Linked DNA regions of Homo sapiens: all the other regions are linked to region 2. The links come from fine-mapping of genetic effects on gene expression. A gene starts in region 2. Each other region holds a variant in brackets. All regions are shown on one strand. Distances are from middle to middle. Region 1 overlaps DOCK5 (dedicator of cytokinesis 5). Region 2 holds the start of DOCK5 (dedicator of cytokinesis 5). Region 3 overlaps DOCK5 (dedicator of cytokinesis 5). Region 4 has its middle 63 kb from the start of CDCA2.

Evidence for each region. PIP is the estimated chance that this variant, and not a neighbour inherited with it, causes the effect.
Region 1: its variant is fine-mapped to the expression of DOCK5 in whole blood (TOPMed, PIP above 0.99).
Region 3: its variant is fine-mapped to the expression of DOCK5 in whole blood (TOPMed, PIP above 0.99).
Region 4: its variant is fine-mapped to the expression of DOCK5 in whole blood (TOPMed, PIP above 0.99).

Annotation. Positions count from the first base shown.
Region 1 is chr8:25,377,283-25,384,987 of GRCh38, reverse strand. DOCK5 (dedicator of cytokinesis 5) reads right to left here. Exons shown (of 52, transcript NM_024940.8): 38 at 7,564-7,683; 39 at 4,594-4,683; 40 at 2,210-2,314. Among named protein-coding and RNA genes, the nearest start is that of MIR6876, 36 kb to the right of the region's middle. The variant C/T (reference allele first, on the strand shown) is at 3,703.
Region 2 is chr8:25,181,926-25,189,630 of GRCh38, reverse strand. It overlaps DOCK5 (dedicator of cytokinesis 5), which reads right to left and starts at 4,942. Exons shown (of 52, transcript NM_024940.8): 1 at 4,680-4,942. The coding sequence starts at 4,722. It overlaps LOC124901912 (a long non-coding RNA gene), which reads left to right and starts at 5,254. Exons shown (of 2, transcript XR_007060861.1): 1 at 5,254-7,705. RefSeq lists silencers at 4,645-4,694, 4,865-5,034, 5,045-5,124.
Region 3 is chr8:25,385,675-25,393,379 of GRCh38, reverse strand. DOCK5 (dedicator of cytokinesis 5) reads right to left here. Exons shown (of 52, transcript NM_024940.8): 41 at 4,148-4,289; 42 at 3,093-3,174; 43 at 1,400-1,484; 44 at 498-584. Among named protein-coding and RNA genes, the nearest start is that of GNRH1, 35 kb to the left of the region's middle. The variant G/T (reference allele first, on the strand shown) is at 4,327.
Region 4 is chr8:25,518,490-25,526,194 of GRCh38, reverse strand. No RefSeq gene overlaps it. Among named protein-coding and RNA genes, the nearest start is that of CDCA2, 63 kb to the right of the region's middle. The variant T/A (reference allele first, on the strand shown) is at 3,659.

The DNA.
Region 1 (7,705 bases), 200 kb before region 2:
CAGCTGAAACAGAGGATCCCTGGAAAGTCTTTCCTGATTTTTTTTATTTTATTTTGAGATGGAGTCTGGCTCTGTCGCCCAGGCTGGAGTGCAGTGGCACCATCTCGGCTCATTGCAATTTCTGCCTCCCGAGCTCAAGTGATTCTCCTACCTCAGCTTCCCAAGTAGCTGGGATTACAGGTGTGAGCCACTGTGCCAGGCCCTGATTCTTTTTTTTATTAAGACATAGGCTGGGCACGGTGGCTCATGCCTATAATTCCAAAACTTTGGGAGGCTGAGGCAGGGGGATCAACTGAGGTCAGGAGTTCGAGATCAGCCTGGCCAACATGGTGAAACCCCATCTCTACTAAAATACAAAAAATTAGCTGGGCCTGGTCGTGCACACCTGTAATCCCTGCTACTTGGGAGGCTGAGGCACGAGAATCGCTTCAACCCAGAAGACGGAGGTTGCAGTGAGCCGAGATTCCACCACTGCACTTCATCCTGGGTGACAGAGCGAGACACTGTCTCAAAAAAAAAAAAAATAAATAAATAAATAAATAAATAAATAAATAAAATAATAATATTAAGACATAATCTACATACAGTAAAATGGACCCCTTTTAGTGTAAAATTCTGTGAGTTTTGACAAACATAACCAGGACCACAATCAAGATACAGAACAGTTTCACTGCCACCAAAAATTTCCCCAGGCCCTTCTGCAGCCAACCTCCCCCTGGCCAGCAACCACTGATCTACTTTCTGTCCTGATAGGAAGCGTTGCCTAGGCAAGAATTTCGTATAAATAAAACCACAGAGTACGCAGCCTTTTAAGTGTAACTTCTTTTACCTAGCAAGCTGCATGTGGGTGGGAATCATGCCCGCAGTTGTGTGTATCAGGAGCTGACTGCCTTTGGCTGCTGCAGTATTCTGTTGTGTGGATACACTGAAGTTTGTTTATCCCATCACCAGTTCAGGGACACGTGGATTGGATCCTGTCTTTGGTGACTATGATTAAAGCTGCTATAAATATTCCTGTACATTTTTTGTAAAAGGGTAAGTTTCTATTTCACTTGGGTAAATACTTCCTGGTTACAGATTCTTATAGCACAGGGTATCTTTCTTGGTTATAGTTTATTTATTTATTTATTTTTGAGATGGAGTCTCGCTCTGTCACCTAGGATGGAGTGCAGTGGTGTGATCTCGGCTCAATGCAACCTCCACCTCCTGGGTTCAAGCAATTCCCCTGCCTCAGCCTCCTGAGTAGCTGAGATTACAGGCATGCACCACCACGCCCAGCTAATTTTTGTACTTTTAGTAGGGACAGCGTTTCAGCATGTTGGCCACACTGGTCTCGAACCCCTGACGTCAAGTGATCTGCCTGCCTCAGCCTCCCAAAGCGCTGGGATTACAGGCATGAGCCACTGCGTCCGACATGCAGATTAAATTTTACATTCATGTGTGATTAAAATCTCCCCTCATGAGTTTAGGTTGTAAAATCCATGAGAGTAGGGACTATGTTTGACTGTAATCAGCAAGATCTTTCTAATGCCTTCCCTATGCCTGGCACACAGTAGATGTTCAATAAATATTTACTGACTGAATGAATAAACTGTCTCATTAGGCACTGTTAGGAATGTAAATTGCTTGCTTTATCGCTTGTTTTCAAATTAGGAGAAAGCAGATGGATAATAAATGTTTAAGCAAAGCTCAGCTCTAAAAGAAACTTTTCGTAAGAGATAAGAATTTTTATTTATTAAACTATAAATTGAATATCGCATTATACACAATTTTGAGATGGAAGAAAAATACCATCCTTGTCATTATTATTATAATAAAATGTTTTATTTTGGGATACTCCTGCAGTCTGGTTCTTGGGATACCTATTTTCAAATTAGCTCTGGCTAGAAACATGGTAAACAACGAAATACATCAGTCCACACTTTTCCCTGGCGTGACCCGTAGCAGCTGACCAGTGCGGGGGATGGTTCTGTTTTTCCCTTTTTCACTGCACCTGGGAAAAGTCATTTCACAAAAGACCTGCAGAACACCACGGGTGTCCGGGGGTGTGGGGTGAAGAGGCCGGCTGCTCAGGAAGTGGTTTCCCTCCCCTACCTCCCACAGCGAGAACACGGGTCGGCAGCTGCTAACACCCTGTTGCCCATCTGGAAAAGAAATGAGTCTCTTCCCTCCTCCTAATGGCCTGGGAGACCACCATCAGGTTTCTTACCCGTAGGAAAGAAGGAAAGCCCTGTCCATAGTATCCAACAGCAAAGTATTCAGGCTGAGGCCTCATTGCCTTAATGATGTTCTCATAAAATGAGGCCCTTTTTTTCTGGAAAACAAAACAAGACATTCCAAGGGGAGGTTATAAGTACACAGTTGGGGGAAAAAAAAAGTCAGACTTTGTTTTGTTGTTTCCCACGTAACCCAGAGCAATGAAAGGTCTTTGGAAAACACCCTATGGGCAGAAAAGGGTTATCCTATTCTCGGATCACAGGTTTTGGACCTGGGCTCCATGAATGGACGTTGGAAGGCTGTGACTCCCTGAGGGTGTATGCTGAAGTGTGTGCACGTTGGAATTCTTCTGCGTAACGGGGCAGTGCACAACTTTCAGCAGTTTCTCAAAGTGGGCTCAGGGACTACAAAAGGTTAAAAAGTGCATTCTGAGATTCACAGAAGGCGGCTGCACTTAACCAGACACCCATGGGAGAAGATAAAGAACCTTCCAAGGCCAGGCGCAGTGGCTCACGCCTATAATCCTTGCACATTGGGAGGCAGAGGTGGGAGGATTGCTTGAGGCTAGGAGTTTGAGACCAGCCTGGGCAACATAGTGAGACTCCATCTCTACAAAAAATTAAAAAATTAGCCAGCAGCTGAGGCAGGAAGATGTCTTGAGCCCAGGAGTTCAAGGTTGCAGTGGGCTATGACTGCACCACTGCACTCCAGCCTGGGTGACAGAGTGAGACCCTGTTTTGAAAAAATAATAATAAAATAAAGAACATTTTTAAAAAGAAGGACTGTGTAGTTCATGCAGGTGGTCTGGATGAAAGTGTCTGGTAAATTATAAGTGCCCAGAAGGTGGTGGTGATGTTCGGTTTTTCAGTATCTGCTACCATCTTTATCTTTAATTCTTCACAAGATGAGGGGCTTTCCAGCTTTGGCTCACAAGGTCAGCCTTAAAGAAAGCAAAATAGCCAGCCAGACGTGGACAGCTTTGAGCAATGACCTGAGCCCCCTCCCCTACAATGGTTAGCATGCCATTACTCTTCTATCTAGGTGATGGTCTCGTCAAAATACTATTTTCTTAGACCGGTATGTAACATGTTACATTACTAATATTTCAGCTCAGTTCAGTTGATGAAATTTTTTTTTTTTTTTGAGACAGGGTCTCATTCTGTTGCCCAGGCTGGAGTGCAGTAGCATGATTACAGTTCACTGCAGCCTTGACCTCCCAGGCTCAGGTGATCCTCCCACTTCAGCCTCCCAAAAGTAGCTGGGACTAGAGGAAGGTGCCACCACACCCAGCTAATTTTTTATATTTTTTGTAGAGATGGTGTCTTACTATGTTGCTCAGACTCGTCTGGAAGTCCTAGGCTCAAGTGATCCATCTGCCTTGGCCTCCCAAAGTTCTGAGATTACAGGTATGAGCCACCGTGCCCAGCCCAGTTGATGAAATTAATAAGTCAGTTTTTTGCATGTGAAGCCAGGGGCTGGTAATAG[C/T]ACACTGGTAAACTTTTTACAAAGTGATCTTGACACCCAGCTCCTCAAATAAATGATTATTTCATGACTATGGGTGACCTGATCTTTTCTAACTCCTCTACTAGAAATTATTAAATTTAATATTATGGTTGCCTACCACTGGGCATTCAGAATGGTGGCTGCCTACCATCAGGCATTCAGAATGGTGGCTGCCTTCTATTGGGCATTCAGAAGAGTGGCTGTCTACCACTGGGCATTTGGAATGGTGGCTGCCTTCCACTGGGCATTCAGAATGGTGTCTGCCTACCGCTGGGGCATTTAGAATGGTGGCTGCCTTCCACTGGGCATTCAGAATGGCTGCCTCCTCCACTGGGCATTTGGAATGGTGCTGCCTCCACTGGGCATTCGGAATGGTGCTGCCTCCACTGGGCATTCGGAATGGTGGCTGCCTCCACTGGGCATTCGGAATGGTGGCTGCCTCCACTGAGCTTTCAGAATGGTGGCTGCCTAACACTGGGCACTCATTTTTGTTTTGCTTTACTGATGGCTGGGAATATGGAGGGCCCACAGAAAGAAAAATGGCTTCAGGAAGAATGAGAGAGCTGCAGACAGAGATCCTGAGGGATGTGGAAAGCGAGTCACTACTATCTGAAACTCAATATTCCACCACACTGTCGAGACAACCCCACTCCACTTCCAGAGATGTCCTGAACCTTCTCTGAAGGATATTTGGCAGAAATATTGATCAGAGCCTTTGGACTACATCTTTTTTCATTCTCATTTCAAGCAAAGTTGACTTTTCCATTGTAAAAAAACACCATTCATCCTGACTTTCAACTTACGGAAACATTTTCATGAGTGCTAATTTTAGCAACCCTGTCAGAGGCCTAACATATTTTGACCCAGACTCACCAGGAGGTTGCCAAGGCCCTCGTAGTCAAATACTTTGCTTTCGTAAGTCTCAGCCAACTCTTTGCTCAGCTTGATGGCCTTCTCCCACATCTTCAGAAAAAGGAAAGTAAGGTTAAAAGTGGAGAACAAGGCAGTCATTGATTCAGTGGCAAAAGCCACTGGCGAGTCACTGGGAATGAGCAAGTGGTCTGGGGGATTGAGTTTCGGTAGATATTCCTCACTCGCTTTATCCCTTAGATCAGTGAAACCTTCATTTCCTGACATCATAAAGACAGTGTATATTGGCAGCTTTGCCAGGGGCGTCTTCTGTAGTTCTGTTTGCACGGACATTAAGAATAAGTACCATGTGTCGCCCAAAAAAGCAATACTGTGTTTAACAGGTCAAGCACCTACAGCACTTCAAAGTAGAGAGGAAGCTCTGCCAGCCCAGGTTCGGAAAGCATGCAAGTCTGGTTGGAGGGGGAAGGGAAGTTTCTGTGGGACTTTGGTTCTGAAATGTGTGTGTACAGGTGTGTGTATGGGTGTGTGTGTGTGTGTGTGTGTGTAGGTGTAGTGATGTTGTTTGTGGAGATGGAAAAAGGCTAACAGTACTGTTGTGTGGTGTTGCAGGAAGTCAGGGACCCCGAATGGAGGGACCGGCTGGAGCTGCGGCAGAGGAACATAAATTGTGAAGATTTCATGGACATTTATCAGTTCCCAAATAATACTTTTATAATTTCTTACGCCTGTCTTACTTTAATCTCTTAATCCTGTTATCTTTGTAAGCTGAGGATGTACGTCACCTCAGGACCACTATGATAATTGTGTTAACTGTACAAATTGATTGTAAAACATGTGCGTTTGAACAATATGAAATCAGTGCACCTTGAAAAAGAACAGAATAACAGCGATTTTTTGGGAACAAGGGAAGACAACCATAAGGTCTGACTGCCTGCGGGGTCGGGCAAAAACAGCCACATTTTTCTTCTTGCAGAGAGCCTATAAATGGACGTACAAGTAGGAGAGATATCACTAAATTCTTTTCCTAGCAAGGAATATTAATATTAAGACCCTGGGAAAGGAATGCATTCCTTGGGGGGAGGTCTATAAATGGCCACTCTGGGAATGTCTGTCCTATGCAGTTGAGATAAGGAAGAATAAACAGTCTCCTGCAGTACCCTCAGGTTTACTAGGGTTGGGAAATTCCACTCTGGTAAATTTTTGGTCAGACCGCTTCTCTGCTCTCAAACCTTGTTTTCTGTTAAGATGTTTATCAAGACTATACGTGCACCGCTGAACATAGACCCTCTTCAGGAGTTTCTGCCTTTTGCCCTTTGTCCTGTTTCCTCAGAAGCATGTGATCTTTGCTCTGCTTTTTGCCCCTTGAAGTATGTGACCTGCTCCCTGTTGGTACACCCCCTCCCCTTTTGAAATCCTTAACAAAAAGTTGCTGGTTTTGCAGCTCAGGTGGGCATCACGGTCCTACCGATATGTGATGTCGCCCCCGGCAGCCCAGCTGTAAAATTCCTCTCTTTGTACTCTTTCTCTTTATTTATCAGCCGGCCAACACTTATGGAAAATAGAAAGAACCTATGTTGAAATATTGGGGGTGGGTTTCCCCGATAGTGTGGAATTTGGCAAACTGTATTTCAATGCAGGGCACTGATTTCCCTACTTAGTGGATGAGTTTTAGGAAATGCCTCCGAGCATGTATAACCATGTAAGTTACAGGCTAAAGCACGTCCTCAGTGTCTGAGGCTAGCAGCCCAGATTGAGCCTTCTAACCCCTTTGGTATTTCATGAGCTGTCTCTTAGACGGATACTATTCAACTTGCAGCATCGGGTCACCTCCTGCTTCATTCCTGTTCACAAGGTGCTATGTTCCATTGTTTCTGGCTTCTGAGGAAATGTGTGCAGAGCCCACAAGCCATTGGGAAACACTTCAAAATTAAATCTTTTAAAATCATTGTTTGCAAAATCTGTCCCCCTCTGAAATCTCAGAATTCAAGAATACACAAGGGAAGAATAAACAGTAGCTGTGAGTTATTGTTGTATATTAAATCATGTATCTGGTCTTGGTCCTGAGTTCCGGTGAATTTTCTTAGAATTTCTCAAATAATAAGAGTGTCTTTGTTATTCCTGGTGCCCCCACCCCAGGATCATACCCAAATCTATGCTAATGAGGTGACTCATGGTGGTCTCCTAGTCTCAGGATGGGGGCTGCCATGCCAGAAATACTAATCATGTGACTAGAAGGTTAGGGCTGTGAGCCATGCGATATCAGCCCAATCTTCAGGGACAAAAGGAAGGCTAAAGATCAAGTTCATTGTGTAGTTAACGATTCATTCAATCCTGCCTGTATAATGAAACCCCACAGTGGCTCATGCCTGTAGTCTTGGCACTTTGGGAGGCCAATACAGGAGGATCACTGGAGCCCAGGAGTTCTAGGTTCTAGACCAGCCTGGGCAACTGGTGAGACCCCATATTTACCAAAAAAAAAAAAAAGAAACCCCAATAAAAACTCTGTACACCCATGGCTTGGGTGAGCTTCCTGATTGAGGAACACACTGATTTGCTGGGAAGGTGCCCCGAGTTCACAGGGGGAAGACACAGAAGCCCCACGCTTGAGATTCTCCCAGACTGTTCCCTATGGGTCCCTTCATGTGGCTGGCCCCAGTTTACATTCTTCCTGATGAAACTGGAATGGTTAAATATAGCACTTCACTGTGTACTATTGGTTGTTCTAGCAGACTATTAAACCTGAGGGGGCAGTGGAAGCCCCCCAGATGTATACCCAGTTGCCCAGAACTGTGAATGGACTGGGGACCCCCAAATTTGAAGATGGCATCTGAAGCGGGGGCAGTCTCGTTGGAGACAGTGCCCTGAACCTGGGTAGTCAGTGCTAACTCCAAGTGGTGAGCATCAGAATTGTATTGCGATACTGCGGTCATTTTCCTCTTTCCCCTAGTACAAAAACAATCCAATACTCACTTTGCCTTTGTCGAAATATGATATGATTTCTTGATACAGCTTCTCTTTAAGCTCTTGCTGGGTATAAACATAGTAACTGTCCTTCTGAAGCAAATGAGGCACACAGGGCTTGTCAGACCACTGAAAAGGAAGAAAAGCGACA
Region 2 (7,705 bases):
CCAGCACTTTGGGAGGCTGAGGCAGAAGGACTGCTTGAGCCTAGGAGTTCCAGACCAGCCTGGGCAACATGGTGAAACTCCATCCCTACAAAAAATACAAAAATCAACTGGTTGTGGTGGCACGCACCTGTAGCTCTCAGCTCTCAGCGGGCTGAGGCTGGAGGGTCACTTGAGCCCAGGAAGTTGAGGCAGCAGTGAGCCATGATTTTGCCACTGCACTCTATCCTGGGTTACAGAACGAGACCCTGTCTCAGAAGAAAAGAAAAAAAAATCAGCCAGGCTCATGGCTCACCCCTGTAATCCTAGCAACATGGGAGGCTTAAGGCTGAAGGAGCACACGAGGCCAAGAGTTCCAGATCAGCCTGGACAATATAGAAAGACTCCATCTTTAAAATGATTATTTTAAAAGTTTAATATTTTAAAACTTAAAAAATCAAAAAACTTAAGCCAGGCATGGTGGTGCACACCTGCAGTTCCAGCAACTTGGAAGGCTGAGATGGCAGGTTGCAGTGAGCTATGATCATACTGTACTCTAGTCTGGGCTGTGGAGTGAGGCCCTGTCTCAAAAAAAAAAAAAAAAAAAAGAAAGAAAGAAAGAAAAGAAAAGAAAAAAAAGCTTTGCAAAGAATCCATAGTCAACCTAATCTGGGGCTATTCTTTACATAATGGCTTGTGTGGAAGCAAACTTAAAAATAAATGTTTTTATAATCAGACTATTCTGGATATTTATCACTAATGTTTGCTTAAAAGTGTTTTATATCTTCATATGCTCAAACAGAAAAAAGAGAGAGAAAAGAGAAACAAAGAAAGAAAAAAGATGAGAAAAAAGCACATTTTCCACGTCTCCAGGGAAGAACACTTAGCCACTGAGCACTTAACACTGGGGTACTAGAGCACCATAAGTTTAAAGAATCAAATAGATCAGTCACTTCACTTGATAACACACAGAAACCATTGAGATCCACTTAATGCTAGAGCCTGAGCCAACACTGCTGTTTAAGAACTAAGAAAGCCCAGACAGGCTGCATTTCAGTCCCTGTAGAAACATCTAGGATATGTCAGGAACAGCCAAGAGTGGCACCAAGATAAAATATGACAGTAGCGACTGCCAGCTTCAGCAGGCACAATTCATACTGAGTCCAAAGCTCTATCCTCACACAGACTAGCTCTGCAGAGGCACACTCCTCTTAGAGCACAACAGGCAAAGTCATAGCTAGCTCTGAGTCATCCAAATGCTTCAACATGACTATCCTACGGTTCCTTCATCCAGAAACCAAATCTGACCAGTACACACTTAGAGAAGTCCAGAAAGCCAATTTTCCCAACTATATTTAAGAAAGTCTGTCTGCTCCATGCTTCCTTGTTTTCTCAGCAGAATATCTCATTCTCTTACTTGCAGAGATAAAGACAGAGTGGAGGCTCTCCCTTCCTCCATCTAACCAAACAAAATTCAACTCATATTGGGGTGAATGAGATGTTATGCCTAATGGGAAGAAAAAGAAGAGGAAAAAACTGCATTCAATTACCAGACAAGCTAGGTTAGTGTACTTTAGAACGGCACCCCAACATCAAGGACAAGCAAACTGAATGCACTAATACCTGGTACACCTGTTGAGTGCTAGGAATACAAAACCACAATGGTCTGATTCACTGAACCCAAGGATGGCACAGTCCAGGAACTGCGAGGAAGAAGCAAGGAGGTTTGGGACAGTCTGACAAATAGCAAATTTGAAGAAGGGAGTAGGAATGGATTTGAGCCCTCAAGGAAAGGTGAGCTGTCTGAGGCAGAGTTGGGAGGGCACTCCTGGCAGGGACAGGCACAATGGGAGCAAAGTCCCAAAGGAGGGACTCTGCAGGGTATGTTGCACAACAGTGGGAAGGGCAGTTGGTCTGCATTGGAGAGCTAGTGAAAGAAGCCTCGAGAGATAATGCTGAAGATAGGCTGAACCAGATTATAGGAACCTTGGAACGGAGGCTCAGACTTTATCCTGTTGACCACGAGAGACTTCCAAGCAGGGAGGTGACATAAACATAAGCAAGGAGGTGACAAAAACAATGAGTTTTAGCAATAAGCAATGGAGATTTCTCTCTTCAGTTAATTTATCCCAACTGTGGGTCCTTTTGTCAAACCCAGACAAACCAGAATCTATGTCTGGTGAAATAAGTGTTCAGAATTATATCCTGGAGCAGTTTCCCTAACACCTAGGCCCTGGAAATGCAATCCAAATATTTTACACACACACACACACACACACACACACACACAATTTCCACCCATATTTCCATATACATATATATATACACACACACACATATACGCATATATACATATATATGTATATACATATATACATATATGTGTGTGTATACGTGTGTGTGTGTGTGTATATATATATATACGTATATATATGTATATATAGTTTTTTTTTTGAGATCGGGTCTCACAGTATCACCCAGGCTGGAGTGCAGTGTCGTGATGGGGGCTCGGTGCACCCTCAACCTCCCAGGCTCAAGCTATCCTCCCACCTCAGCCTCCTCAGTAGCTAGAACCACAGGCACAGGCGACCATGCCCGGCTAAATTTTTTTCGTATTTATTGTAAAGACCCGTTTGCCATGTTGCTATGCTAGTTTTGAACTCCTGGGCTCAAGCAATCCTCCTGCCTCTGCCACCCAAATTGTTGGGATTACAGACGTGAGCCATCGCACCTGGCCCAAATATTTTTCTTGACTGATAAGTGACACAGTAAACTGACTCCAGAACATAAAAACAAAATATTAAAAACAATTATACTTGCTCCTAGGACTATGGCAATAAAAACCACATTTTTGAAACATGTTTGCATTAATTACCCTCAACTGAATAGTTTTGAAAAGAGCTTTTAATCCTGATAAAATTAGAGTTGATAACATTTCTGTAGTGATTGGGCATTGTAAATATGCTTTCATCTAGGGGCCAGGTGAGGTGGCTCATGACTGTAATCCCAACACTTTGGGAGGCCGAGGCAGGCGGATCACCTGAGGTCAGGAGTTTGAGACCAGCCTGGCCCAGATGGCGAAACCTGGTTTCTACTAAAAATACAAAAATTAGTCAGGTGTAGTGATGCAAGCCCGTAATCCCAGCTACTCGGGGAGGGGGGCTGAGACAGGAGAATTGCTGGAACCTAGAGGTGGAGCTTGCAGTGAGCCGAGATTGCGCCACTGCACTCCGGCCTGGGCGACAGAGTGAGACTCCCTCGTCAGTCCGTCTCAAAAACAAACAAACCAAAAAAAAAAAAAAAAAGAGCCCTGAGGCAGAAGCAACATCTCTACCCATTTCTGAGATGCAGCTAAGGGAGAGACTAAGATTCTAAAAGCAACTTAAGAGCAAAAAAGAAAATGTCTTTTGAATTGAGGGAAAACAAAAAATAATAAATATATAAAGGATCACAACCTAAGAATAATATAGTAAATATGAGACTGTTAAAAAACAAAACAAACAACAACAAAAAACCCTGACTCCTGGCTACAGAGTTGAAAAGCCCCTAGACACGTTGAGTAGCTCTTAATTGAGACTGCACTTCATTAACCAGTGAGGTGAGGAAAAACAGGACCTCAGTAAGGGAGTAAAGTCAAAGACTAAATTACAAACAGGCCAAATGAATGGATCTGAGAGGAAGTGATAAAATTCGCAACACACTCAGCCGTGTTTATTGTAGGGAATCACCCCAGGTCTAACTGCCATTGTAATCACCCCGTTCAGGGCAGAAGTCTTCCCACAGGCCCTCAATAACTTCAATCCTTGATAAAAAGCCAAAGGAGCCTGACTTTCCACCTGGGTCAAAATCCCCGCACATCTATTGTTTCGGAGCCAAAGCACCACCACCAGCAACCCCTGCGCACAACCCGGGGCTCTCCAGCACCGCTGTTCTGAATGCCAAGTGCCCAGCACGGGGTCTGGCACAGTTTCCTTAATAAAATGTCCTCTTCTCGTCTCCAGGATGAAACTCAGGATCCGGAAGGCAGCCTTACACCCTCTCCAGACAGGCTCCGTTAGGGGATGAGTGCGCACAAACAGCCCCAGGGGCCAGCCACCCCCTTCCCGTGCCACAACTTCCTGTCCCTTCCATCACTTCCACGCCACGACTCTAGTTTCCATCCAGCTCACAACTGTCATCAAGATCCCAGTCTCTGGAGGAAAGGGGGCAGGGCGGCTTTCCACCCTCAACTCCTCACTTAAGGGGCGTCTGAGAAGAACCTACGAAAGCGGGGGGCAGAAAGCACTGGGACAATGAGCACCAGTCCATGTGCCGACCCGGGCTGGTCACCTACTCCCAGGTGAAACCCACGCTGGGCGCACCGGGGCGAGCCACAGAGCTGCGGCCCCAAAAGAGCAGCAGGCGCGCCCCCCTCGCGTTGACATTTCCCTGGTGTGAAGTGCCGGAGATTGGGATGCAAGAGCGGGATTACGGTCCCGAAGCTCAGCTGCACTTGGAAGCACTCGGAGTCCCCAAACCCTGGGCGACTTCCCCATCGGCGCTCCCTGGAGAGGACTCCTACCGTCCCCGGCTCCCAGAGCTGCGCAGCCGGGCCGAGCCCCCGGCCAGGGTCCTCCGCCGGGCTCTGCGCAAACCTGGCAGGGCCGCTGTCCGCGAACTTGGCCGCGTGGGTCGGGCCGGGACAAGGTGGGGCGCGCACTCACCAACCCCGTACTTCTGCCTCTTGGTCGGGATCCAGCGGGCCATGGCGGCGACCTCGCCCCGCGGCGGCGGCGACTAAGGCTGCTACAGCTCCTCGGGCTCCGGCCGCCGCCGCCCCGCGCTCCTGCGTGCCCCAGACGCTTCCGCCATGTTCCGCCAAACTTCGCTGGACTCCGCGGGCCGCCTCCTCGCCGCGCCGCCCGCGCCCGTGCCCGTGCCCGCGCCGCCCGCGGTCACCTGCTGGGCCGGGCTGCAGCGCAGCAGTGCGCGCCCCTCCTGGCGCCGCCCCAGTCCCTCCCGCCGGCCGCACCCTCCGCCCGCCGGGGCCGCCTCCGAGCCGCGGGCGCCCGGCCTCTCCCGCCCGCGCCGCTCTCTGCGCTCTGCCGGGCGGGGGCCGACTGCGGCTCCGCCTCGCGCGCTTCCCTGGAGCGGCTTCCTGGGCCGGCGGGACTTTGACGCTGGCGGCACTTTGCCTTTCTCCCGCCCTCCCCACCCGGCTGATACCCCGGAGGCTGGGTCCCGGGGGTCCGGCTCCCGACAGAGGGCTGCGCTGGAGGAGCCGGGCACGCCCAGGCCGGGCGGCCGGTGGGCGAGGGATGCGGGCTGCGCTCCCACGGCGCGCGCCGGACACTTGGGGAGCGGAAACGGATCAGCGAGAGCGGCTTCTTGCTCGGGGCACCTCCGGTGCCTGGCACTAAGCGGGCGCGCAATAAATATTTGTTGAATGAATGAGCAGTTGACTTCTGCCTTCACCCCCTGGAGCTTGAACCCGCGCCGCGAGCGGGAGAAGCCGGACTCAGGGCAGACTGAATCTCCCGGGGCCACCGCTTAGAGCCTGGAAAGCAGAACTTTTATCACCGGAGAGCTGGTGCAAGGGAGGTGGGCTCCTCAGAAGTATCAGACCGTTTGCTAGGGGATCCTCTGCAGGGAAATTGTTTAGAAAGCCCTAATTTGGAAGTCCTGTATCCCCAAACTCCGGGGACCCCCCAACCTTAAGCTGAAGAAACTTAGACCCTCATGCCCAGACCTCCCTTTCCCAACCAGCCAGCAGCCCAGAGAGCATTCCCGTGGAGAAAGGGCCAAGGCGCATCCCCGTCTTTTCTCCGTCAACGACTGCCTTTTCTTGACGAAGATCCCAAAGGGGCTGCGCATTTGAACCGCCTTGGGCTCCAGGTGGCGCCCTCTCTGGAGCTCCCCTCTTGGAATTCATTTCTTCCTGGAGAGACTTGGAGAATGAAGATCCAGGGGTTTCTCCCTACCTTGTACCGAGAAGTAACATTGCAAGTAGAGTAAATGACCAGCTTAATTACGTTCACCTTCGAAGAAGATTCCTCTAGAGAGAAATTATATCCTCCTTGCAGCCTGTGAAGGTTTTCATGCGTTTTAGGAATATAAAAGAAAGGAAGACAAACATGTAGTAAAGATAGTAAAGACAGGTAGTTGGCCAGGCGTGGTGGCTCATGCCTGTAATCTCAGCACTTTGGGAGGCCGAGGCGGGTGGATCACCTGAGGTCACGAGTTCCAGACCAGCCTGGCCAACATGGTGAAACCCCTTCTCTACTAAAATACAAAAGTTAGCCAGACGTGCTGGTGTGCTCATGTAATCCCAGCTACCCAGGAGGCTGAGGCAGGAGAATCGCTGGAACCCGGGAGGCAGAGGCTATAAGTGAGCCGAGATCGCGCCACTGCACTCCAGCCTGGGCAACAGGGCAAAACTCCGTCTAAAAAAAAAAAAAAAAAAAAAAGACAGTAAAGATAGATAGGCAAACAAGGTAACAAGATAGTAAAGTTTCATTGGAGAATTAGTGCATTTTAACTTTGGTGGTTTTTTACCAAACGAGGTCTGAAATTTTTTTTAAGTCCTATTCACGGTGGGTAACTACTAGAGCTGGCTTTTTTTTTCTCCATCAACCAATAGGTATTTATTCACAATGTTTAACAATAATTTAAGAAATTCCTCTGTCACTTTAGACTTGACATCCAGAAAGAATTCCACCATCTTCCCTAAAATAATTTATCTTCCTCCATTAGTATATCATGATTCTAATTTCCCAGGTTAGGTAATTTCTTCTTCCTTCTTCACACACATATTAAATGCCTACACGTTAAGTGCCAGGCATCACTCTAAGAATGAGGGTGCAGCGGTGAATACAGTAGAATGTGTCCCTTCACAGAGCTTCTAGTCTAGACGGGGAGAGTAAGACAGTAAAGAAATGTACACCAAACGAGAGTAAACATTAGAGAAAAATCCAAAGCAGGGAGGATAGGGCGTGTAGGGTGCTGCTGTTTTTATGGAGTGGTCTGGGAATGCAGCTCTGCTAAGCTGAGGTTGAGGTGTAGACCTGAAGGAAGTGAAGATTCCGGGAGAAAGTATTCTGGAAAAGAGGAACAGCAAAGGCAAAGGACACCAAGCGTGTTTGGCAGGTTCCCAGGTCACCCAGAGATCCTAGGTAATGAGAGCTGAGTAACAGGTGAGAGGAAACTTGGTCTAAGAGGCAGAGGAATGCCAGATAGAGCAGAACCCTGGCAGGCATATGGACTTTATATATTACTACTACAAGCGAGGTTTGGAGGGCTTTGAGCCAACCTGGAACATATTGAACTTGCCTGCTGTGGTATGAATCCATTGTAAAGGGGCAAGGGAGGCCCACATGGATGGATGTTGGGGGCTATTTCAGTCATTCAGGCAAGACATGAAGGTAGTTGGGTCCAGGAGGATAAGGATGGAGGTGAAAAAGATGTTGGGTTCTTGACATACGTGAAAATAGAGCCTGGCCAGATGTGGTGGCTCACACCTGTAATCCCAGCATTTTGGGAGGCTGAGGTGGGAGGATTGCTTAAGGTCAGGAGTTCAAAATCAGCCTGGACAACATAGTGAGACCCTCCTCTACTATATATATATCCTGGGCATGGTGGCTGTGCCTGTGGCCCTATCTACTCAGGAGACTGAGGTGGGAGGATTGCTTGAGCCCAGGAGGTCGAGGCTAGCAGTGAGCTATGATTGCATCACAGCATGAAAAAGAACCAA
Region 3 (7,705 bases), 200 kb before region 2:
GGACCTGAGAAGGCCATGCATGGCAGGGAGGCCAATGAGGAGGTGGGAAATAAAACAGATTTAATCAATACTAAACAGGTAAAATAAGCAGCTTTTGGGCGAGATGAAGAGGGAGGAGTCTAGGGTAACTGTGGATATGATTAGCAGAGAATAAAAGAAGAGAACAGGCTTTGGGAGGGAAGATGTAATTGACAAGAAACTCCAAAGCAGCATTCCAAAAATGTTTCTGGGTGCTGGCAGGATCGCTGAGCAGACACCACTCCTCTGGACATAAAAGAGTCATTCACTGTGATTGACCTTTAGGGCTGGTGTTGTCACATCAGTTTTACAAAGGAGCTCTATTATATAAGCATGCCTTTTATTTCTCTTTTGAAAAACAAAGTTGGCCAGAGGAGGCTGGCCAAGCTGGTGTGAACTGCAGAGGGAATTCAACAAAGGCTGTTATTATATTTGGAAACAGAAAGTTTTTTTCTAAATGCCAATTTCAAATGACTCACTGTTGAAATCTGTTTGACTTCAAACCACTTGAGAATCCCAGGAAAGGTATATGCAGTCGTATACGTGGTCCGTTCAATCCACATCGTCTGGTGGCAAGAAGGAAAACATGAAATGTTGGTCAATTCCCAGGAGGAAAACATGAAATGTTGGTCAATTCCCAGGGAAAACAGCAAGACTCCCTGGTTCACTTAAGTGAGATTCTATTCTCAAATGCCTCGTAGAGACTGAGCCAAATTTTCTCATAAAATTCAAGGATTCTGGATGTTTAAAGCTGAAAGGGATCGTCTACTTGGGACTTCTCACCCTACAGAGGGAAATGTGAGGTCTAGAGAGGTATGACTAGCCCAAGGTCATTACAAGCAGCAGGCCCAGGAAGAGACCAGATTCTGGACTCCTAGTCTAGCATTTTCCATGGAGATGACAGCTGGCTGTCTAGGTAATTAGTACTTGCTGTCTAGGTAATTAGCAGGTGAAGTCTCTGTTCCCAGGGGTGCCATCGTTTCTCCTGTGGAAGCTGGTTAGGTAGGTGGAAGATCTCCACTTGGGATGTCAATTTTACCTTTTTTTTTTTTTTTTTTGAGACGAAGTCTCGCTCTGTCGCCCATGCTGGAGTGCAGTGGTGCGACCTCAGCTCACTGCAACCTCCGCCTCCTGGGTTTAAGCAATTCTCGTGCCTCAGCCTCCCGAGTAGCTGGGACTACAGGTGCGTGCCACCACGCCCGGCTAATTTTTTTGTATTTTTAGTACCGATGGGGTTTCACCGTATTAGCCAGGATGGTCTCGATCTCTTGACTTCGTGATCCGCCCGCATCGGCCTCCCAGAATGCTGGGATTACAGGCGTGAGCCACCGTGCTCAGCCCGTTAATTTTACCTCTTAAAGGACAAAAGGGGTGAACTCACAGCAAATTCATTGTCTGGATCCTTTTCTCCTTTCCGGAACGGCCGGGAGTATCTGAACTGCTGCACTTCATTGGCTCTGTAGTAGCTGGAGAAGGACAAAGCAATGCTGTATTTTTCTCTCTTAGAACAACCACTGCTTGACTTGACTTCAACAAAACCTATAACACATCTGCCTGGTCTGAGTTTTACCCACTAAGCTATCTCATAATCAATAGTGCCTCCACATGAAGGCCTGAGAAAGTGTACAATTTGATTTTATTTCACACCTTACTTTTATATTATTTAGGAATTTATTTCACAGCACACAATTTTATTTATTTATTTTTATTTATTTATCTACTTTGAGTCAGAGTCTAACTCTGTCACCCAGGCTGGAGTGCAGTGACACGATCTTGGCTCACTGCAGGCTGCACTTTCTGAGTTCAAGTGATTCTCCTACCTCAGCCACCTGAGTAGCCGAGATTACAAGCACGCACCATCACGACTGGCTAATTTTTTTGTATTTTTAGTACAGATGGGGTTTCACCATGTTGGCCAGGCTGGTCTTGAACTCCTGACCTCAAGTGATCCACCCGCCTCAGCCTCAAAGTCACAGCACACAATTTTAAAAGGTATATGTGGCCAGGTGTGGTGGCTCACACCTGTAATCCTACCACTTCGGGAGGCAGAGGTGGGAGGATCGCTTGAACTCAAGACCAGCCAACCTGGGCAGCACAGCAAGATCCCATTTACACACACACACACACACACACACACACACACACACACACACACACACACACAGGTGTGGTGGTGTATGTCCCAGCTACTTAGGAGGCTGAGGTGGGAGGGAGGGTCTCTTGAGCCCAGGAGTTTGAAGTTGCAGTGGGCTATGATCGTGCCACTGCATGCCAGCCTAGTTGACAGAGAGACCCTGTCTCTTAGTGGGCGGATTGCCTGAGCTCAGGAGTTTGAGACCAGCCTGGGCAACACGGTGAAACCCCGTCTCTATTAAAATACAAAAAATTAGCCAGGTGTGGCGGCGTGTACCTGTAATCCCAGCTACTTGGGAGGCTGAGGCAGGAGAATTGCTTGAACTTGGGAGGCAGAAGTTGCAGTGAGCCAAGATCACGCACTGTACTCCAGCCTGGGTGACGGAGCAAGATTCCGTCTCAAAAAAAAACAAAAAAAAAGGTGTATGCACTTACACATACATTTGTGATCTCATTAGTCTAGTTTTATAACAGTTCTTTCAATACTGTTAGCATTCAGCTTTTCAAGACAAGGAATGAGCCCCTCCATCACTGGGGACCAGCCACTCCTCTGCGATGCTTTTGGGTGAAAATAAAAGCTCAGGGATCTGTAAGCTAGGTGTGAAATTTCTGATTTTCCTCTGCCTAAAAAAACCAAAACCCCCACATCCCTTTGTATTACCAAGCTTTTATCTTACACTCAAAGTAGAACAGACAGTAGGTCTTGCAAACTGTAATAAATGTAAGGCTTTGGTTTTGATGTACTCCAAACAGGTGTGAGGGAGAGACAAACTTTTCTCTTTTTTGTAGAGACAGCATCCCACTTTGTTGCCCAGGCTGGTCTCAAATTCCTGGCTTCGAGCAATACTCCTCCCTCAGCTTCGGAAAATGTTGAGATTATAGATGTGAGCCACTGTGCCTAGACACAGATTTTTTTTTTTTTTAAATGAAAAACCACTTACTTTAAGATCTGCTCTGGAACAGGTTTATCCTTGTAGCTGGGCGGCAAGCTCATCACTGGCTTTACAGTGAAGCACTGCATGTCTGAAGAGCTCGTTAAGGAAAGGAGAGGGGCTGGGGTCGTGAAGGTGTCAGACACCAAACACCCCTGTTCCTCCTGCTTCACAGCCGGAAATGCCACCAGCACCAATCACTCCCTTTGACCCCAATGCCAGGACCACACTGAAAATGGGAGTTCCTTTGTGTATCACTGGAATGCCTTATTCAGTGATTATAATTAATCCTAGGGCCCTTTTTTTTTTTTCGGTCAGACATCTGGCAAACAATCCTTGCCATAGGGAAATAGACATCAATGCAATATCAGGAAATAGGTACTTAGAAATGGATTTAAACAATTTCTTGGGACAAGCATCCCTCTGAAATCACCAGAATCAGAGCCCAGGCAACAAGAATTACTTTTATCTTTGGATCCCGTCTGTTTATCCAGTGCCATAGTTGGGCACTGTGCTAGGTATTTTGAATGTGTTATCTCTACTATACACAACAACTCTACATGAGGGATATTCTTATTCTCTTTTCACAGATGGAGAATCTGAGGATAAGAGAGGTTAAAATCCAACATCACACAACTGGTAAATGGTAAAGTTAGGCTTCAAAAGCAGCTCAAGTGTAAGCGCTCCTGCTCTGATTTAATGATCAAGTCTTAGAAAGTCTTAGCTCCCCAACCCACCAGGACAGAGATACTGTCTCAAAGTCTACAACAGAATCCAGAATTCACAATAGAAAGTATATATTCCACTTAAGCTCCCCATCTGGCTACGAAGTATATTTCATATCCATCATTTGTCTATTATCTCTCCTCTTTTGTTATGTCATCACCACCAGCTAATGCTATTAGGGTCCCAAAGATTTTACATGGAATGGGAACCTGTGTCAGAATGCTTGAGAAGATGGTGTGTCTGCAGAGAAGGGACTGTAGCTCCTATGTTCTCTGGCTTAGCTGGGGCTGTGCACAGCCATAAGAGCCTCGGGGCCATACTCCCCCCGGAAAGGATACACTGCTTGGGGGACGACTTGATGTCTTCCCCAGGAGGCGTGGTACTGGTCATCTTCTCCGCATTGGGGAACTGGGTTAACAACCTCAGGCTGAAGTCCTCTCGCCTCTCATACTCCTTTCCCCGATAGATGAAGATTTTATTCTGCAGGTGAGACACAGAAAGGGAAGTCATTACATAG[G/T]AAGAGTGGAGAGGCAACTGGAGTTCCGGGTACTGAGGTAGCCACTGCACTCCCCAGCCAACGTTCAATCCCCACCATCAAGTTCTCACTGAAAATCTAGTCCTTGCCTGACAGCGACCATCATATCCTACAAGAGCTGCGGTTTATTGGAGAAGTTAAATCACAGGCATAAAAAATACTTAGCCCAGTTCTTCTTCCAGTGTGGCCCAAGGACCATGGCCAGTCTGCAAACAGTCTGGACCCATCTGCAAGGAAATACGGAACTTGTGCCCTCATTTAAATCAATGACATCCACAGGCATGCTGATATTTTCATGGCAAGACATTCTTAAGGAAGGAAGGAAGTGCATTAATTTACATTGAGGTATAAACTCCTAATCGATCTCATCACCATCCAGCAACAATTTGTGGACCACCACTTAAACAGCACTGCATAAGAGAATGAGGAGAAGCAATGTGTCTTCTGGCACAGAAACAGAGTGACAGAGAACAGAAGCAATGTACCACAGTCCCCAGCCAATCCTGAAAGTCTAATAGAAAATTACTGCATTAAATACTATTTTCTCCACTCTAGACTGTAAATATAATCTCTTTAATCATTTTTTTTTCCCCAAAGAGATTTCCTAGGCCCCAGGCATGGGAGTAATTTGTCTCACAGGTGTGGTTGCCTGGGCAAGTGCAAACATAGCCATGTTTGAAATGAGCAGTTTCCATTGGTAGCCCACACATGATTCCTTTTTAAGCAACACTTGGGCCCAGGTTGTCTTGTAAAATGTCTTTCAAAATCACTTGTCCATTCATATAAAAATATGTATTGCACAAAGAGAAGATCAGCTGGACAACAGGAATACAATGGTGATCTTGCTCTCACAGAACTTACCTTCTAGAGGAGAGAATAAAAAACAAGCAAGTAAATATATTAGTAAACATGATAGTGTAAGTACCGTGAGGGCAATTACACTTTCCAGGCAAACACTGAATGAAGGGAGTAAAAACTACTGGATCTTTTGGAATATATGATAAAACTTTTCCAAGTTAGGAAAAGTCTATGGGACTCAAGCCTGTTGAAATTCCATCATTCAGATGAAACAATGGTGGGTAAAGGATCAGAGTGTAATACAACGCTAGTTGTATGATGCAGACGATAACTGTAAAAGGAATCACAGAAGCAGGTCAGGAAGAATTAGCTCGACTGGAAAGAGAAGGCTTCAAGCAAGACATGGGCCTTAGATGGGCATAGACAGATGAATGGGATAAGGAAGCGTAAAGAGAAGGGGTGCGAAGGACCAGGTGGGTATGTGGAAAGAGTCAGGCCCAGGGGCGGAAAGCACAGAATTCTGGGAGAAGAAATGAGCTTGGACTGGAAGAATGAGCCAGAAAATGAATGGTCTCGCATGGCAGGCAGAGGTTTCAAAGACTTGGAATGTTCACTGGAGGTTCTGGAAGGCAGGAGATGCATGATGAAAGAAGAAGTGTAGACAATGTAAGCCAACAGTGGCATCTATGCCCAACTGAAAGCTCACAGGCTGGACTGAGCAGAAGAAGGAAAAGTAACAGAAGGAGAGACAGAAGTAACAGCATTCAGTGTTTGCTTCTTTGGTGTCGGGAGAAGGGCAGGGCAGACAGGGGAGTCGACGCTGATTCAAAGATCACTGGTCTTGAGCCTGGGCAAGATAGTGAGACCCCATATCTAAGAAAAAATAAAAACATTAACTGGGCGTGATGGTGCACACCTGTAATCCCACCTCCTCAGGAGGCTGAGGCAGGATTGCCTGAGCCTGGGAGGTCAAGGCTGCAGGGAGCTGTGATTACACCACTGCATTTCAGCCTGGATGACAGAGCGAGACCTCTTAAAAAAAAAAAAAAAAGTCACTGGTCTTGGAGTAGGAAGAACAGTGGTACCCCTGACAGAAACAAAAGAGATAATGAGATCTCATTGGGTTGGAAGGAGAGGATGATGTAATTTTAAATATTCTGAATTCAGGGAAATATCCCATAGAAGAGAGTGGCAGTGAGGTTATATCACTCCTGAGGATTTTATATTCTACAGTATGCCTTTGAGGTATGTTAACATCTCTAAACTACTTTACAGTTTATAAAGCACTCCTATATGCTATTAACTTAATTCTCAAAACTTTCCTGCGATGTAGGCATTATTTTTCTAAATTACGGATCAGAAAACCAAGACTCAGTGATTACGTGATTTCACCAAAATTGCACACTCGCTCAGCAGGTGATTTAGACGAGAATGCTTTCGACTTGAAAGTCTGGTGTTCTTGATTTCACAGAATCACTGCTGTCTCTGTGGTCACATTTCTGATTTCATGGGACATGCAGGCATATGTAACGGCTATGGCAGGGGTTGTTCTTTTATGTTGACCTGGATTGAAGCTGAGCTAACACTAGACCCTGATGCATTTAGACCCTACACTCTTTCTATTTTTTATTTTATTTTTTGAGACAGGGTCTCACTCTGTCATCCAGGCTGGAGTGCAGTGGCTTGATCACAGCTCACTGTCACTTCTAATTCCAATACTCAAGCAATCCTCCTGCCTCAGCCTACTGAGTAGCTAGGACCATAGCACATGCTACCATGCCTGGCTAATTTTTAAAAAATTTTTTTATAGAGACGGGGTCATGCTATGATGCCCAGGCTGGCCTCAAACTGCTGGTCTCAAACTCCTGGGCTCAAGCAAGACTCCTGCCTTGGCCTACCAGTGCTGGGATTACAGGCATGAGTCACCATGCTTGGCCTCAGACCTTCCACTCTTTATTCTTTCCTCTGCCTGGTCCACCTCATCCCCAACCACGGTTATTTTAACTCCATACAAGTAACTCACCAACTTTTCTCTCCTGTCTGTAACTTCACTTGAGTTCCAGATCTATACAGCTAATGGTTGACTTGTGCCTTTTGGATGTTCCAAATGTACCTCCCCTTGAGTACGTGCAAAACCAAACTTTGCAAACACTTTAGAAAGCCCTGGGAGGCCCTCTGCTATCTGGTACCAACAGCCACCTGCCCCATTCTCCTATACACCCTCTTGTACACAACTACTCCAGCCTCATAGCTTTTGGACCTGCTATTCTCAAGGTCTGGGACCTTTGCTCAACCTCTTGATAGCTGCATAGCTTATTCTTTAACTTTTTTTCTGGTTTTTGCAAAAATGCCATTTTCTTTCTGAAGTCTTTCTTGTTTACTGTATTTAAAATTGTAACTCCATCCCCAACACCTGCCTCTCTAGTCCCCTTCCCTAAGTCCTTTTCTCCATGATACTTACTGAGTAGCTACACTGTAGGAGGCAGTGTTCTAGGCCATCTCTCATACTAAATAGTTTATTGATTTATCTCATTTTTTGATCTCTCCAAGCTGGAACATAAGC
Region 4 (7,705 bases), 340 kb before region 2:
TTTTTTGTATTTTTAGTTGAGATGGGGTTTCACCATGTTAGCCAGGATGGTCTCAGTCTCCTGACCTCATGATCCGCCTGCCTCAGCCTCCCAAAGTGCTGGGATTACAGGTGTGAGCCACTGCACCTGGCCTCCTTCTCTAGTTCTTTCAATTGTGATGTTAGGGTGTCGATTTTAGATCTTTCCTGCCTTCTCCTGTGGGAATTTAGTGCTACTTCTGCCTTAATTTCATTATTTACCCAGTAGTCATTCAGGAGCAGGTTGTTCGGTTTCCATGTAGTTGTACAGTTTTGAGTAAGTTTCTTAATCCTGAGTTCTAATTTGATTGCACTGTGGTCTGAGAGACTGTTTGTTACAATTTCCATTCTTTTGCATTTGCTGAGGAGTGTTTTACTTCAAATTATGTGGTCAATTTTAGAATAAGTGTGAGGTGATGATGAGAAGAATGTATATTCTGTTTTTGGGGGGTGGAGAGTTCTGTAGATGTCTATTAGGTCTGCTTGGTCCAGAGCTGAGTTCAAGTCCTGAATAGCCTTGTTAATTTTCTGTCTCATTGATCTGTCTAATATTGACAGTGGGGTGTTAAAGTCTCCCGCTATTATTGTGTGGGAGTCTAAGTTTCTTTGTAGGTCTCTTAAGAATTTGCTTATGAATCTGGGTGCTCCTATATTGGGTGCATATATATTTAGGATAGTTAGCTCTTCCTGTTGCATTGATCCCTTTACCACTATGTAATGCCCTTCTTTGTCTTTTTTTATCTTTGTTGGTTTAAAGTCTCTTTTATCAGAGACTAGGATTGCAACCCCTGCTTTTTTTTTATTTTTTGCTTTCCATTTCCTTGGTAAATATTCCTCCATCCCTTTATTTTGAGCCTATGTGTGTCTTTTCACATGAGATGGGTCTCCTGAATACAGCACACTGATGGGTCTTGACTCTTTATCCAATTTCCCGGTCTGTGTCTTTTAATTGGGGCATTTAGCCTGTTTACATTTAAGGTTAATATTGTTATGTGTGAATTTGATCTGGTCATTATCATGCTACTTGGTTATTTTGCTCATTAGTTAATGCGGTTTCTTCATAGTATTGATGGACTGTACAATTTGGTATGTTTTTGCAGTGGTTGGTACCAGTTTTTCTTTTCCATATTTAGTGCTTCCTTCAGGAGCTCTTGTAAGGCAGGCCTGGTGGTGACAAAATCTCTCAGCATTTGCTTGTCTGTAAAGGATTTTATTTCTGCTTCACTTATGAAGCTTAGTTTGGCTGGATATGAAATTCTGGGTTGAAAATTCTTTTCTTTATGAATGTTGAATATTGGCCCCCAATCTCTTCTGGCTTGCAGGGTTTCTGCAGGGAGATCCGCTTTTAGTCTGATGGGCTTCCCTTTGTGGGTAACCCGACCTTTCTCTCTGGCTGCCCTTAACATTTTTTCCTTCATTTTGACCTTGGTGAATCTGACGTTTATGTGTCTTGGGATTGCTCTTCTCGAGGAGTATCTTTGTGGTGTTCTCTGTGTTTCCTGAATTTGAATGTTGGCCTGTCTTGCTAGGCTGGGGAAGTTTTCCTGTATAACATCCTGCAGAGTGTTTTCCAACTTGGTTCCATTCTCCCCGTCACTTTCAGGTACAATCAAACATAGGTTTGGTCTTTTCACATAGTCCCATATTTCTTGGAGGCTTTTCTCATTCCCTTTCATTCTTTTTTCTCTAATCTTGTCTTCATGCTTTATTTCATTAAGTTGATCTTTAATCTCTGATATCCTTTCTTCCACTTGATCGATTTGGCTATTGATACTTGTGTATGCTTTGCGAAGTTCTCGTGCTGTGTTTTTCATCTCCATCAGGTCATTTATGTTCCTCTCTAAACTAGCTATTCTAGTTAGCAATTCCTCTAACCTTTTTCAAGGTCCTTAGCTTCCTTGCATTGGGTTAGAACATGCTTCTTTAGTTTGGAGGAGTTTGTTATTAGCCACCTTCTGAAGCCTACTTCTCTCAATTTGTCAAACTCATTCTCCGTCCAATTTTGTTCCCTTGTTGTAGAGGAGCTGTAATTCTTTGGAGGAGAGAGGCATTCTGGTTTTTGGAATTTTCAGCCTTTTTGCGCTGGTTTTTCCTCATTGTCGTGGATTTATCTACTTTTGGTCTTTTATGTTGCTGACCTTCAGACGGGGTTTTTGAGTGGATGTTCTTTTTTGTTGATGTTGATGCTATTCCTTTCTGTTTGTTGGTTTTCCTTCTAACAGTCAGGCCCCTCTGCTGCAGGTCTGCTGGAGTTTGCTTGATATCCACTCCAGACCCTCTTTGCCTGGGTATCACCAGCAGAAGTTGCAGAACAGCAAAGATTGCTGCCTGTTCCTTCCTCTGGAAACTTGGTCCCAGAGGGCCACCTGCCAGATGCCACCTGGAGTGCTCCTCTATGAAGTGCCTGTCGACGCCTGCTGGGAGGTGTCTCCCAGTCAGGATGAATGGGGGTCAGGGACCCACTTGAGAAGGCAGTCTGTCCCTTAGCAGAGCTTGAGTGCCATGCTGGGAGATCTGCTGCTCTCTTCAGAGCTGGCAGGCAGGAACATTTAAGTCTGCTGAAGCTGCACCCACAGCCACCTGTTCCCCCAAGTGCTCTGTCCCAGGGAGATGGGAGTTTTATTTATAAGCCCCTGATGGGGCTGCTGCCTTTCTCTCAGAGATGCCCTGCCCAGAGAGGAGGAATCTACAGAGGCAGTCTGGCTACAGTGGCTTTGCAGCACTGGGGTGGGCTCCACCCAGTTTGAACTTTGAGGCAGCTTTGTTTAAACTGTGAGGGGAAAACCACCTATTCAATCCTCAGTAATGGTGGACGTCCATCCCCCCACCAAGCTACAGCATCCCGGGTTGACTTCGGACTGCTGTGCTGGCAGTGAGAATTTCAAGCCAGTGGATCTTAGCTTGCTGGGCTCTGTAGGGGTGGGGTCCGCTGAGCAAGACCACTTGGCTGCCTGGCTTCAGCGCTCTTTCCAGGGGAGTGAATGGTTCTATCTCGCTGGCATTCCAGGCACTACTGGGATACAAAAAAAAAAAAAAAAAAAAACTCCTGCAGCTAGCTCGGTGTCTGCCCAAATGGCTACCCAGTTTTGTGCTTGAAACACAGGGCCCTGGTGGTATAGGCACCCGAGGGAATCTCCTGGTCTGTGGGTTGCAAAGACCATGGGAAAAGCATAGTATCTGGGCCTGAGTGCACCGTTCCTCATGGCACAGTCCCTCACTGCTTCCTTTGGCTAGGGGAAGGAGGTCCACAACCCCTTGCACTTCCTGGGTGAGGCAACGCCATACCCTGCTTCGGCTCATCCTCCATGGGCTGCACCCACTGTCTAACCAGTCCCAGTGAGATGAACCTCAGCTGGAAATGCAGAAATCACCCACCTTCTGCATTGATCTCGCTCGGAGCTGCAGACTGGAGCTGTTCCTATTCGGCCATCTTGCCAGCCATCAGATCATTTTGTAATGTTATATAATGGTCAAGTACTGCAAATCCCAACTACAAGTACAAAACAAGATATCTTGAAATTTTATAATTTGATGTTTTACTGTCACAGGAACATTTGCAAGTGAAATGGGGTATAACTGAAATAAAAGTTTTTTATTCATTTCTTTTATATGTTTACATTTAATTAATTAATTAATTAATT[T/A]ATTTATTTATTTTGAGATGGAGTCTTGCTCTGTCACCCAGGCTGGAGTGCAGTGGCGTGATCTCAGCTCACTGCAAGCTCCACCCCCTGGGTTCACGCCATTCTCCTGCGTCAGCCTCCCGAGTAGCTGGGACTACAGGCACCCACCACCACACCCAGCTAATTTTTTGTATTTTTAGTAGAGATGGGGTTTCACCGTGTTAGACACGATGGTCTCAATCTCCTGACCTCGTGATCCGCCCGCCTCGGCCTCCAAAGTGCTGGGGTTACAGGCATGAGCCACCGTGCCCGGCCTATTCATTTATTTATTTATTTAGAGACGGAGTCTCGCTCTGTCACCCAGGCTGGAGTGCAGTGGCGCATCTCGGCTCACTGCAAGTTCCGCCTCCCGGACTCACGCCATTCTGCTGCCTCAGCCTTCCAAGTAGCTGGGACTACAGGTGCCCGCCACTACGCCCAGCTAATTTTTTTGTATTTTTGGTAGAGATGGGGTTTCACTGTGTAAGCCAGGATGGTCTCGATCACTTGACCTTGTGATCCGCCTGCCTCAGCCTCCCAAAGTGCTGGGATTACAGGCGTGAGCCACCGTGCCCGGCCATTGATTTATTTTTATATTGACTGATTAATTGGCAAGGTCTTCTCTGTTGCCCAGGTTGGAGTGTAGTGGTGCAGTCAGCTCACTGCAGCCTTGAACTGCCAGGCTCAAGCCATCTTCCCACCTCAGCCTCCAGAATAGCTACTGGTGCGTGCCACCATGCCCAGCTAATTTTTGTATTTTTTTCATAGAGATAGGGTCTCACTATGTTGTCCAAGCTGGTCTTGAGCTCCTAGGCTCAAGTGATACTCCTGACTTGGCCTCCCAAAGTGTTGGGATTACAGGTGTGAACCACCATGCTCAGCCAAGATACAGTTTTTAAATCATTGATTCTTTGGAAAAGCTATTGGGGAAAGGAGGGTAGCTTTCCCCAGGTTTGGAAATTAACTCCTACAGGAGGGGATTCCCATTCTCTCCCCAAAATTTCTTTGTAGAACTAGAGCAAGGAGCTGGAGAAATCTCTTAACAAGTCTCACAACTTCAGCGTACCAACTACAATTACATTCTACTCACCATCTGGTAATTAGTTATCACTTAATAAAGATTTCTTTTGGCACTTGCTGTCCTAAGCCCCCAACACAGGACCTGTGCCAGTTTCCCCTCCAGACCTCCCAACAGAAATGCCAACAGCTGCCCAGAGTACAGACCTGTCTCTTCCTGGAATTAAGGTGCCCAGGATGGAGGGAGGGCTGTTAAACTCAGATTATCCCTACAACTGTCCTAAGAACAGGGTAAGACTTCCTGACAGAAGCTGTTCTTTTACCAGACTCTAGAGAGAACTTCCTGGCAATCTTCCTGTCATTTGCTGACACACACACCTGACCTCTCCTGCCAAGCCATAGGTAGACACACTTTGGGTGTGAAACTGATTTAATAGTCCCATAGACTAAACATAGAAATTGACCCTTCTGGTCTTATTTTTTGAGATGGAATCTCACTCTGTCACCCAGGCTGCAGCAGTGGCACAATCTCAGCTCACTGCAACCTCCTCCTCCTGAGTTCACGAGATTCTCCTGCCTCAGCTTCCTGAGCACCTGGGATTACAGGTGTGTGCCACCACGCCCAGCTAATTTTTGTACTTTTAGTAGAGACGGGGTTTCACCATGTTGGCCAGGCTGGTCTCGAACTCCTGATGTCAGGAGATCCACCCACCTCAGCTTCCCAAAGTGCTGGCATTACAGGTGTGAGCCACTGAGCCCGGCCAACCCTTCTGGTCTCAAAGCTTAAAACATGTGTTTGTTTTATCCGAGTTCCTTCCTTAGGAAGTGACCTTCAGGTTTCTCAAAAAAGGATCAAAGAAGTGAAACTCATCAGATCACCACATCTACACAATGAGATGCTGGACCCCTCATTCATCCTGATTTTTTCCTTGCCTTTCCCTAGTTCCTGTTTTCTTACATATTGTTTCATTTCTTCCCAGCTATATAAACCCTTAGTTTTAGCTGGTCAGGGAGATGGATTTGAGACTGAGCTCCCATCTCCTTCTCTGTAGCACCCGATTAAAGCCTTCTTCCTTGGCAACAATCATCTCAGTGACTGGCTTTTAGTGCAGTGAGTAGTAGGACCTAGACTCAACCCCTGATGTTTTGGTAACATGGTGAAAAGATACATGGATGGTATTTGATTTCCATGGCTAGGGACAAGCTAGAACAAGGCTATGGATAGGCTGATTTAAATTTTTAGCCAAAAGTAGTGTATTCAATAGAGGATGACACAAAAAATGACCTTGCTAGATCCATATAACCTCCTCACAATGTGATCAAGACAAATCTAAATTAGGAGTAAGGAATGCAGTGGGCTCTGCAGTAGTTGACATGTGTGTACTAATGGGATGGATTCCTTTGGAAGAAATGCAGGATGAGGCTATGGCTTACGGACAGGAGAGTAAGACTGGAAGGGGAAACACATCCCTCCAGTGGAGCCAAGACATGGTCATTGTATCTCCAATCACGTAGTGAGGGCGGCTCTCCATTTCTGAGGACATTGGCAGGTCTTGCACAGAACTCTTATCTTTCTGGATGAGACTCGATTCTCCTCTTTCACAGCCTCCAAATCATTGCCTCTCCAGGTACAGCATTTTCATCAAAGAAGAATCAACTTGAGGGGAAGAGAGACTCCTAATTCCAGCTCAGCCACTGACCAGCTCTGAGACTTTGGGCAGGTCACATGACCTCTTAAAAGTCTCAGCTTCCAGCTGGGTATAGTGACTAATGCCTTTAGTCCCATTTTGGAAGGCTGAGGCAGGAGAATTGTTAGAGGGCAGCAGTTTGAGATCAGCCTGGGCAACATAGCAAGACCCCCATCTCTACCAAAAATTTAAAAAAGCTAGCTGGGTATGGTGGCACATGCCTGTAGTCCTAGTTACCTGAGAGGCTGAGGTAGGAGGAACATTTGAGTCCAGGAGTTTAAGGCTACAGTGAGCTATGATCCTGCCACTGCACTCCAGCCTGGGGAACAGAGTGAGACCCTGTCTCTTAAAAAAACAAGTCTCAGCTCCTTATCAGTAATGTGGGTGTGATAATGAAGTCACATAAAATGAGGGCATGTGGAAGAACACCTGCTGCAGTGACGACACTGCGGATGAACAATACAATGGAATATTTTTCATCTTTTGGTTACCCTGTGATCAAGGGAATAGGTACCCTGTGATCAAGGGAATAGGTGAGCAAGGCATAGGATGCTGGTCTGATGAAAACAAATACAGAATATCTGTGTTATTTTCATAGAGGTCCCATAAAGGAGGCATTACTAATATTCCCATTTTACAGATGAAGTAACTGAGGCTCACACTTTTGTGGTTTTAAGCACATTACTTTTTAAAACTGATTTTGAAATAATGATGGATTCACAGGAAGTTGCAAAAACAGCAGAGGCCCCGTGTACCCTTCATCCAATTTCCTCAATCGTTGCATCTCCCCTGACTAGAGTCCAAGAGGGGCTTTCCATTTCCTCACCTGCACACCTCAGAAAAGGAGCTGGCCTCCCGGAGGCTGACTCAGGGGCCTGGTTGGAGCCACTGCAGGGCTTTTATTAGGACAGAGGAATAGATTTCAGTGAGCTGGGGAGCTGTGCTAATATTCCCATTGGAGATTTATAAGACAAGACAACGCTGAGACTGGCTGACATTGTGAGAATGCTCCTGCCTCCACGAAGGAAATCGGCCCTACCAATTCAACGATCCTGCCAAAGGAGACAGCCAACTCGCCCCCCGGCCCTTCAATCTGTTAGCCAGGCGCTGGACACCGGCAAGCTGCCAGTCACTAGATGGGCATTTAGCGATGAAAGGTTCGTCACTTTCATTGCTTAGTCCCTCCTGCTTCTCAGCTCTTCCCTCCAAGTGACCACTATCTGCCGCCAGCAGACGCAAACAGCCAGTTCTCCTGGGTCTCTTCTCCACTCCAGCTTGTGAACTTGGAAAAGCAAACAGCTCCCACATTTCTTACTGCACTGTT